3 linked regions of the Homo sapiens genome follow. The protein of the gene in region 2 purifies or fractionates together with the protein of the main gene of each other region. This does not show direct contact. Each region holds a gene or a part of one and is shown on either strand. Other genes may lie near its edges. The genes, in order: ANKRD22, UBE4A and PPP4R3A.

Region 1 (3,734 bases), on a different chromosome or scaffold from region 2:
GAAATAATAACATTTTTGACGGGCAGACTTGTTCTGCGGCTGATGTTAACAGGTGTAACCAATATTCACAGTTTATGAGCTACAACAAGGAGGGAGCTTGGTCATTTAATTAAAGTAAATTATGCATCTCTTGAGTCATGTCTGAGAAGTGGAACTGGGCACAAAGGAAACTAGATGGATAAAAGTGAGTAAGTCAGTGCAGATCTGTTACCCTATTGGGAAAAAAAACCAAAAACCATCTCAAGCTTCATCTTCTACTCCTCATATGACTGCATCTCTATACCAACTACATCTTTCTTTATTCAAGAAAATTGCTGTCTGCCAAGATTCATCCAAGCATGAAGAAATTCATCAAGGTGAAAATGGGCTTAAATTCTCAACAAGTATCTTCTGTGTGTGTCAGCTTCTGGATGCAAACTTTTAGGATCTGTTTTTCAACACACCACCAGAGGAGTACTTAAAAATCAGTAAGTCAGAAAGATAAATCCAAAAACACAAACTCCTCTTTTAAAAAAAGGAGAAAAAAATATTAGAAGGGGTGTTTTTTAATATTCAGAATTTTTTTGCTCCCTTCAGAAAAGTCTTAGTTAAGGTTAAATTATTTTTCTAAATCAACATTGCATGGATTATGTTACCATTGATTAACTATTTTTGCTAGCTTTCTTCTTGCTGTACTTCAATTATAGCATTGGATGTATGTTGAACATGTCAATTACAGAATACAAACCAAAGGCTTTTTTTGTTTTTATTTCTTTTCAACATCTCACTGGCCTGGCAAGAGTCAATGAGTCACACCATCGATCTCCACATTTGCCCTTTGCTCTACAAGTGTTGTACTCACCATGAGGAAATACCCAATAAGCAGAACAGGCATTAAGAGGATAATTAGTAGATAATCAATGAAGGTAAATTTTTTCTTCACAGCATAATGCAAGCAGGTTCTCTCTTTCTAAAAATTAAGAAAAGGATTCTTTACTAATAAAGCATTTCAATTCAAAATTTATTCAGATGGCCATCTCAAAAAGTTTAGTTTGTGCTTTTTGTTTTTCCGGTACCCATGGCATCTTTTCCTGTGGGATACATCTGATTACTGAATGCGGCTTTCCATGGAGCAGAACAGAGAACTCGGTCCAGTGTAAAGGAAAAGCTAGGGAAGGGCTCCTGGGAGTCAACAAAGGTGAAATGTACACAGCAGAGCTCATCAGAAGACAGATTCTTATACCCACTTAGTTTTTGGAAAAAAAGATACACTGAGATATAAACTTAGGACTGAATTTACTATGAAAATTGATAGTTATCCCTTAATCATCTACCATGTGTACGATTATCCATTTTGTGGTTTGTTCATAGGAAAACTCTTAACCACATGGCTGTTTTTCATGTTCCTTCATGTGCATAGTCTAGAAGAATGCATATAACTCAATTTTATTCTTCAAATATGTGAATACTTATCAGGTAATAGATGTCAGCTTCCAAGGGTTGTGGGAGATGTGAACTCTTAGGGCCTCATAATCAAAGATGGACAGAAATATGCACAAATAAATATAAGGCAAAACAGAAGGTGGTAATTGGAATACCAATCAAATCAGTAAGAGGAGAGGGAGCCCAAGAGAAAGAAAGGAGGTTAGTTTCCACTTATGCAAGGCACTGTACCTAAATAAGAACACTTTTTGTTTTTCTAATATGAAGGCATTTATATTTTCTGTAAAAAAATTTTAGAAACTAGAGAGGAACATAACGATAGAATTTTAAATTGCCCATTATTATATTAAATGGTCCAGAGTTAACTGTTGACATTTTGTTGTATTTTCTTCCAGTCTTCTTAAATGCATAAATGTGGAATTTTGAAATGTAGAATGATATTGCATATGCAATATCATATCTTGCTTTTTTCAGTTCAGAAACGTATATTTAGAATATGTACATTTTTCCATGCAATTCAATATTTTTAAACATATGATTGTAATGGCTGCATGGCTTAGTATTGAGTGGAACTACTCTGATGTATTTAGCTAAGCCCTGCCTTTTGAACATTTCATGGTTTTTGAGGGTTTTGTTTTTGTTTTTGTTTTTCTGTGAGACAGGATCTTGCTTTGCCACCTAGGCGGGAGTGCAGTGGCACAATCCTAGCTCACTGCAGCCTTGACTTCCTGGTCTCAAGCGATCCTTCAACTTCAGCCTCCAAAGTAGCTGGGACTACAAACATGTGCCACCACACCTGGATAATTTTTTACTTATTATTATTTTGTGTAGAGATGCGGGGGTCTTGCTATGTTGCCTAGGCAGGTCTTGAACTCCTGGTCTCAAACTATCCTTCCACCTTGGCCTCCCAAAATGCTGGGATTCCAGACATGAGCCACTGCACATGGCCCGTTTCAAGTTTTAAACTTTTCATTTTTATAAATAATATTGCCTGAACCTGCTCATTCATAAATTTTTGTCAACATTTCCAAATTTGTCCTTTGCCTACATTTCTAAAAATAGAATTCCTGGCATAAAAAGTATTAATGCTTTTCATATTGCGCTATCAAATTGTGTTCTAATAAGACAATAATAACTTAAACTTTCTGATCAACATTTGTTTTCTTTTTTAATCTTGGTCAGTTTGACAGACAAAAACAAGGATCTTTATGTTTTAATTTAATTTGCTATCAATAGAATCCATAGGCTTGTGCTTCTGAATCTCCAGCAGAGCTTTTTGTTTGTTTGTTTGTTTTTAAGGTGTTTGTTTGTTTAGTGTTTCTGGAAATAATTTATAAACAGATTTCAGACATGAGAAATCACAGGTTCAAATTATTAATGTACAAATATTAATATTTGGAGAAAATAAAAATATTAAATGCTAACATTAGAAACATTTGAAAGTGGAAAATGCAAACCAAAAACTTCTACTGATAAAATCTATTAATCTAATGTATCCACTAAAGTCTTTTTCATGGTTTTTATGATACCAGAAAATCCCAGCAGGCTGGCTGAGGCCCTCCTCTTCTGCAAAGCGGAGATAAAAGTGTCTCCTCAGCCTTGCCCATGGGCTAACGTCTCCTCCCTCAGTTTCCTAACGAGCGCACCTCTTAAAAGAGCGCAGGAACCCACAGACATCTGTCTTCTGGCACTACCACTCACTGCAACTCCACATATCTGGTTTCACAGCAGTGATCTACAGAGATCCTATTATAGTCCACGATGTTGCATATCTGTTCCATTCAGCACAGGCATGACTTGCTTTTAATCGCAACCAAACCAAAAATAGTAAGCATAAATAAAAAAGTCCAGTAATGATCAATTTTCTGATAATACATTGTTACTCCTGATGAGCTAGTCTCCAAATGACTTAGAAGGGGCAAGGGGGGATTTCCAGTGTTTTCTCGCCTTGAATGCATATAAGTGGGTACAGGACAGTCATAATGATTGCAAAAAAATGGCTTAATATTTATTCAGTGTAATTTAAATATTGCCTTCACTACGATGCAAATGCTAGATGTTCAGAAAGGGCTCCACAAGGATTTTCACAGCAATACACACATATTCTTCTCTTTCTTGGTCCTGAAGGCTCCAAAGTAGCTAATATTGCATCTTTAAATATATTCTTTACACCTTTTTGTGTGACTTCAAGTAACCTCTGGCTCATGAGCTTATTTGTCCTTGGTAAATTTCTCAATAGTACTCTTTCATTCTACAAGAACACTATAGGATCCTCTGGAGATCAGGACATTAATATAGCAGGTAAAAATCTA
Region 2 (3,734 bases):
CATGACTTCTGGAAATGTTCTAACTTCCTCATCCAATATCAAGGCTTCAATGACCTCTTCCAGAAACTCAGTTACATCTTCAAAATCTAACAGAAGACAAATGAGAGAGAAAGGAGGGCACAAGAATTTTTATATGCCTTTACACACTAGCTCTTTACTTTCAATAATTCTTTTTTTTTTTTTTTTAGAGCTGGGGGTCTTGTTTTTTTGCTCAGCCTGGAGTGTAGTGGCTATTCACAGGTGTGATTATAGCACACTACAGCCTCAAACTCCTGGGCTCAAGGGATCCTTCTGCCTCAGCCTCCAGAGTAGATGGGACTACAGGGGTGTGCTACCATGCCCAGCTTTATTCTATTGGTACTCAACCTCAAAGATCAAGATGTGAGCCCTCCTCCTTAATTTATACCAGAACCATAATGGCTCTGAGACTTTCTAATGCAATTAGTGAAATTTTAAATCTGAAAATCAAAATGTAGAAGCTTACAGATCTTGTTCATGTACTCACGGGCTCCCTGGATGGCTTCTAACATCAAATCTACCAGTTGCTCATGGATGTTTTGGTCAACATAGATCTCTGGGGTGAGAAGAACTGTTCGGGTATTGGACACAGTGAGGTTTCTGCACTGCACTGCAAAGGGTAGCAGGTTCTCTGGAACTTTGGTAATCTGCAAACAGCATGAAGAAAAGAGGGAATAGTCTAACTCTGTAATCTGGAACGAAAGTAGACATAGTGAATACAATAGAAGAGACATACTGGTCTCCTGTGGATGCTTGAAAATTAATTAGAGATTCCTTCCTTGGCTTAAGGAATCATCTATCTGCCTATTTAAAATTCCAAACCTGGAAATATCCGGCTTAGCCTACTCTAATATTTACATCTCAGTGGAAATGAATTCATGAGCCCTTTTCTGATTTTTGAGACAGAGTCTCGCTCTGTCACCCAGGCTGGAGTGCAGTGGTGTGATCTCAGCTCACTGCAACCTCCACCTCCCAGGTTCAAGTGATTCTCCTGCCTCAGCCTCCTGAGTAGCTGGGATTATAAATGTGTGCCACCATGCCCGGCTAATTTTTGTATTTTCAGTAAAGGTTTTGCCATGTTGGCCAGGCTGGTCTCGAACTCCTGGCCTCATGTGATCCGCCTGCATCGGCCTCCCAAAGTGCTGGGATTACAGGAGTGAGCCACTGTGCCCAGCCTCATGAGATTTTTTTAAGGATGTGATTTCTAAAGAGGTTTTAGAGAGAATAGGAGGCATTGGTTAACTGGGGAGAAGGGTGGACCCCAAGATACGGAAAGGAGACTAAAGCTTTAGTGCATCTGATATCCAGTGTTCTAAACATACTATGACATATATAAATTGATATAAAAGCTTTAGTGTCCCTGATATTCACTTCTAGACATACTATGACATATATAAATTGAAATAAAGACTGATCCAACTCTGGCCCACATGCTGAAGTCATACCCAAGAGGACAATACAGTATTCAATGGGGATTATTCCTTTACCTCTTCCTTGGCTCTCTGGAAGCAGGAGTAAAGGTAACAAAAAATGTGCCTCTCTCCTGCATCTCGATCAGCAGAGAGATTTAGCGTTGTAGAAGAAGTCATGTTAATTAAGTGGTTGCCTGGATCTTGAAGTAATAAGCGAGCGAAGAGGGCCTATAAAGAAAACCAAACAAAAATACTAAACTATTGCAAAATTAATCTGAGAACATTAAGATGTAAAAGGTAATTCTGACACAGGTTATTAGCAAGAATCACAGATTTGAATGTAGAGTGAAGGAGAAAAAAAGGGCCCTGTATATTTTTACTTTAGAAAATTTTAGAAAATTATGGCATATATAAAGTTATCCTAAATCAAGCCTCAAGTGTCTAGTATAGCCCCAGCATAGAGTAGGCATTAAAAGACTATTTGTTGAATGGTGCTGAGATCAGTGATTAAACTTAGATGTGAAATCTACTATTCTGTGTGATTGCTGATCTCATTCAGACTTATATAAAGATACTCCAAATGTGAAGTTAAACTGCAAGCTGTCAACTGTCTTTCCTACCAAACTTTTATTCTTTTAATGTTACTCAGGCACCTGCAAGGTACAACGCACTGTTTTGATTTTTAAAGTGCTGTGGTTTATATGTTTGTCTCCAACAAAATTCATGTTGAAATTTGATCTCCATGTGGCACTGTTGGAGGTGGGGCTAGTGGGAGGTGTCTGGGTATGGAGGCGGATCCCTCCTGAATTGCTTGGTGCTTTTCTCAAGGTGCTGAATGAGTTCTTGCTCTCACAAGACTGGATTAATTCTCATAGGAATGGACAAATTCCCTCCAGAGCGGGTTCTTATTAAGCCAGGACACCTCTCAGGTTTTCTCCTCCTTGCATGCGTCCTCATGGTATGTGTCCTTTGGTGACTTCCTCCACCACATTGTGAGGCAGCACAAAAGCCCTCACCAGAGGCCAAGGACATACCCTGAATCTTCTCAGCCTGCAGAACTGTGAGCTAAATAAACTTTTCTTTATAAATTACTGCTTGGGTGTTCTTTTTTTTTTTTTTAGATGGGTCTTTCTTGCTCTGTCGCCCAGGCTGGAGTGCAGTCGTGTGACTATGGCTCACTGCAGCCTCTGCCTCCCAGGCTCAAGCAATCCTCCCACCTCAGCCTCCTGAGTAGCTAGGACTTCAGGTACATGCCATCACACCCAGTTAATTCTTTGTATTTTTTGTAGAAACATGGTCTTGTTATGTTGCCAGGGCTGGTAACTCCTGGCCTGGAGATCCTCCCAACTTGGCCTCCCAAAGTGCTGGGATTACAGATGTGAGCCACTGTGCCTAGTCACAGGTATTCTTTTATAGCAACACAAAACAGACTAAGATAGAAAGGATATAAAGAAGAAAAAGCGATGGGCCTTGCCCTTAAGAACTTAAGTCTAATAGGGGAGATAAGACAGGTACATAAGAAAGCCGCAACATGAGACAGAAAGTGACAATTCCCACAAGAGATTCAGAGGCTGATTATTCTAGGTACCCAGAGGAGGGAGTAACAACTTTTATTTGGCAAGGCTTTGTAATTTTTTCTTTTTTTTTTTTGAGACGGAGTCTTGCTCTGTTGTCCAGGCTGGAGTGCAGTGGTATGATCTCGGCTCATTGCAACCTCCGCCTCCTGGGTTTAAACCATTCTCCTGCCTCAGCCTCCCAAGTAGTTGGGACTACAGGCGCCCACCACCATGCCCAGCTAATTTTTTGTATTTTTAGTAGAGACGGCGTTTCACCATGTTAGCCAGATGGTCTTGATCTCCTGACCTCGTGATCCACCTGCCTCAGCCTCCCAAAGTGCTGGGATTACAGGCGTGAGTCAATGTGCCTGGCCAAGGCTTTGTAATTAAGAAGGCATTTTAACTGGTTCTTAGAGGATGGGTAGATTTGGGCATGTGGCCATGGTAGATGAAAAGATTCCAAAAGAGGAACACCACAATGTTAGAGATGCACATCCAGGTTACTTGGCCTTCTACTGGTAAAAAAAAAAAAAAAAAAAGAGAGAGGGATGGACATATGGACACAAGCATAAGTTGGAGAACAGTGAGCAGAATTCAGCCGCATAGCTAATTTTTGCTAAGGGCACACATTAGGAACGTAAGAATATTACCTGCTCAACATTGCTCATATCAAGCCAGTCTTGATCTTCTAGCTCTACTGCCATTTCTTCCAAATACACACAACGGCTAGGGATGCCATTCCCGCTTT
Region 3 (3,500 bases), on a different chromosome or scaffold from region 2:
TGTGTGTGTGTGTGTGTGTATGGGTGCAAATAACAATTCTTTCTTTGTACTACACAAACTTATTTTTTTGTTGTTGAGATAGGGTCTCACTCTGTTGCTCAGGCTTGAGTGCGGTGGCATGATCATTGCTCACTGCAGACTCAAACTCCTGGGCTCAAGCGATTCTCCCAACTCAGCCTCCCACATGGCTGGGATTATAGGCATGCATCACCATACCTGGCTAATTTAAAAAAAAAAAAAAATCTTTTTTGAGACAGAATTTCACTCCTGTTGCCCAGGCTAGAGTGCAATGGTGTGATCTCAGCTCACTGCAACCTCCGCCTCCCAGATTCAAATGATTCTCTCGTCTCAGCCTCCCGAGTCTGGGATTACAGGCGTCCACCATCACGTTTAGCTAATTGTTGTATTTTTAGTAGAGACGGGGTTTCGCCATGTTGGCCAGGCTGGTCTTGAACTCTTGACCTCAGGTGATCCACCCGCCTTGGCCTCCCAAAGTGCTGGGATTGTAGGCGTGAGCTACCGCATCCAGCCCCAGGCTAGTCTTTAACTTCTGGGTTCAATCGATCCTCCTGCCTTGGCTTCCCAAAGTGGTGGGATTACAGGTATAAGCCACTAGGCCCAGCCTATGTAAACTTCTATTTCAGTTAGAATAGACCAATTCACACACTGGGATGACACAGTAAGAGCTTTTCTAATTTTGGGGGTGTTACAAACGCAAATTATTGTCTAGCTCTCAGAGACTTTGACTCAGGTTTTGTGCAGAATTCATGATACTGCACCCTAGGGGACTGTGATGCAAATACCCTAAAACACCAGATCAGAGAGATTGGGCATACTATAAGAAAAAAAAATCTACATTTTAATAAGCAATTATCAATAGACACTTAAAAAATTCCCATGAATCTTACATCATATTAAACACTTTCTTTACATGCCTGACCTCAGTTAATTTTCAGACAACTTTACAGGGTAGGCATTAATGTCACCATCCTTCAGATGGGGAAACCGAAGCTTTAAGAAGTTAAGGCTGCCCAACTCACATAGCTACTGTTATTAAGTGACAGACGGAGCTGAAACTCAAATTCACATGGGTTTAACTCACCCACAGGCACACCCCTTAGCAAAACGTGGCTTTTGGTAGGGATACATGCAGTTATAATTTGCCTCCTCTGCTACATTCCCTAGACCCTGAAACTGGACTTTTACCGTATCATTATCTGGGAATTTTACAAATTCGTTTTAAATTTTATTTTTTTGGTAGAGACAGGCCATAGCGCCTGGCCCACAATTCTCATTAGAATTTATATTCTGTGTTTGGTGACATTTCTCTTGGCTTTGTGCTTCACTCTTTCCTCTTCCAATCTGTTCTATTCTATGCAAAATTCATAGAGTAATAACCCCAAAGTTCAGCATTCAACCATTTCATTAATATTATCCTCCTATAGTTGAGTATGGTGGCTCACAACTGTAATCCCAACACTTTGCAAGGCTAAGGTGGGAGAATTGCTTGAAGCCAGGAGTTTGAGACCAGCCTGGGCAACAAAGTGAGATCCATTCTTTACAAAAAAATTTTTAAAAGGTGGCTATGGTAGCATGCATCTGTAGTCTTAGCTAATTGGAAGGCTGAGGTGGGAGGACGGCTCAAGCCCAGGAGTTCAAGGTTGCAATAAGCTATGGCTGTGCCACTGCACTCCAGCCTGGGCAACAGAGCAAGACCTCAACTTAAAAAAAAAAAAATCAGGCTGGGCCCAGTGGCTCACACCTGTAATCCCAGCACTTTGGGAGGCCAGGGCAGGCAGATTGCTTGAGCTCAGAGGTTTGAGGCCAGCCTGGGCAGTATGACAAACTCCATCTCTACAAAAAATACAAAAATTGGCTGGGGGTGGTGGTGCACACCTGTGGTCCCAGCTACTCAGGAGGCTGCAGTGGGAGGATTGTTTCAGCCAGGGAAGCGAAGGTGGAGGTTGCAGTCGCTGAGACTGCATTATTGCCCTACAGCCTGGGTGACAGAGCAAGACCCTGTATCCAAAAAATCATCCCCTCATACCATTTCTTCAAACTACATTTGTCACACTTACCTCTCCTACCCCAGATAGAGTAACCTTCTGGTCTCGTATTATTATTGTATATTATAATCTCTTAAAATAACTCACAATACTTAACTTTATACATTAACAAAATTAAAACTCAATGTATGTATTTAAAAGGAGCAAATTGTTTTCGCTGCATCTCTTGAAATATGAAAAAAGGAATGATCTAACTCACCTGCAACATGCCAACAATCTCTACCTTATTGAAAAAGATAAAAGAGTGAAGTGTTGATAACATGTTTTCTTCAAAGACCGAAGGAGTTGGTAGAACCATATCTTGTATATACTGAACTCTGTATGTCTGATGAATTTTTTGTTTCAGCTCAGGATCTGATATGGGAATCACTTCTTTAAACTTGGCTGTTTTTGTTAGAAATTCCCTGTGTTTTCGTGGTTGTGATAAAGCAGGATCATATTCTAAACATCCAATGACGTCCATTATACATTCTTCAGAGAACATAACTTCAAAAAGAGCAGTTCGATTCAAGAGAAAGATGCCTTTGATAATTTCATACAAGTGGTGCAGTCCTTCAATATTTTCCAAATCTTCACACACATGAAAAAGCTCCAGGAGCTTTTTAATATAACCCTCATTTTCTAGTGCCAGTGCAAGTTTTTCACGACGAAGAGGTGAAGGTAAAGATGATGCCACAAGTTCTGCAATTTCTTCAAGGCGACTTAATTCACAAGATGGCAATTCTAAGCCTGGCGATGACATATCATCAAAACGCTCCTCTTCAGATTCATCCACAAGGTCCTGAGTGATGTCCACGGAAGGGTCCTTTCCTTGAACCTATGAAAAAAAATTTAATTGCTGACAAAATAGATAACAGGTGACCAGCAAACCTAAATGCTACTCTAAGATGAATACTAGAAATGTTGTAAGAAACCTATAATGGTCATTTTCAAGACAAAACTGCCTACTTTTCTACATTACATTTCTCCAAATATGTATACTTTCAATTTTAAGGAAGTTAGTCAAAGTTCAAAAACAGAATGAGCTTCCCTATAAAGTATGAGGTCTGCTGGCAAGAACAACTTTCTAGGACAGGCTAAACTAAGTGAGACTGTTACGAAACAGCCCTCTGCAGACCCACAACATAGAAGCCTGATGCTAAAACAGCCACTAACATCTCATATCCCTGGCCCTCTTTTCCAGCAGACCAAGGCAAGTCTCAGAAACAGTCCTAGGACTGTGCTAAAGGACACTGCCACCACCAAACTCTTCAATATTTAACTCTGAGGTGAAGACCAAATAAACACCAAATATCATAATGTTATGATCACAGAAAATATATATAATTATAAGCAAAAAGGAAAATATTTAACATCAATTGATTGTAGAAACCAAGGGCCAAAGAGCATGAACAAACTGGCTTTGGACCAAAGTGAGTCACTGATCTTCTATAA

The links.
Region 1: the proteins of UBE4A (region 2) and ANKRD22 purify together in Homo sapiens (co-immunoprecipitation; one large-scale study listed by IntAct). This does not show direct contact.
Region 3: the proteins of UBE4A (region 2) and PPP4R3A fractionate together in Homo sapiens (co-fractionation; one large-scale study listed by BioGRID). This does not show direct contact.

What each region holds. Positions count from the first base shown.
Region 1 is NC_000010.11:88,827,718-88,831,451, forward strand, and holds part of ANKRD22 (ankyrin repeat domain-containing protein 22), read right to left. Parts: intron 950-3,734; coding exon 842-949; intron 1-841.
Region 2 is NC_000011.10:118,369,438-118,373,171, reverse strand, and holds part of UBE4A (ubiquitin conjugation factor E4 A), read right to left. Parts: coding exon 3,637-3,734; intron 1,659-3,636; coding exon 1,506-1,658; intron 666-1,505; coding exon 506-665; coding exon of another isoform or gene 485-505; intron 87-484; coding exon 1-86.
Region 3 is NC_000014.9:91,479,311-91,482,810, forward strand, and holds part of PPP4R3A (serine/threonine-protein phosphatase 4 regulatory subunit 3A), read right to left. Parts: intron 2,884-3,500; coding exon 2,266-2,883; intron 1-2,265. UniProt on the Homo sapiens protein: Regulatory subunit of serine/threonine-protein phosphatase 4. May regulate the activity of PPP4C at centrosomal microtubule organizing centers.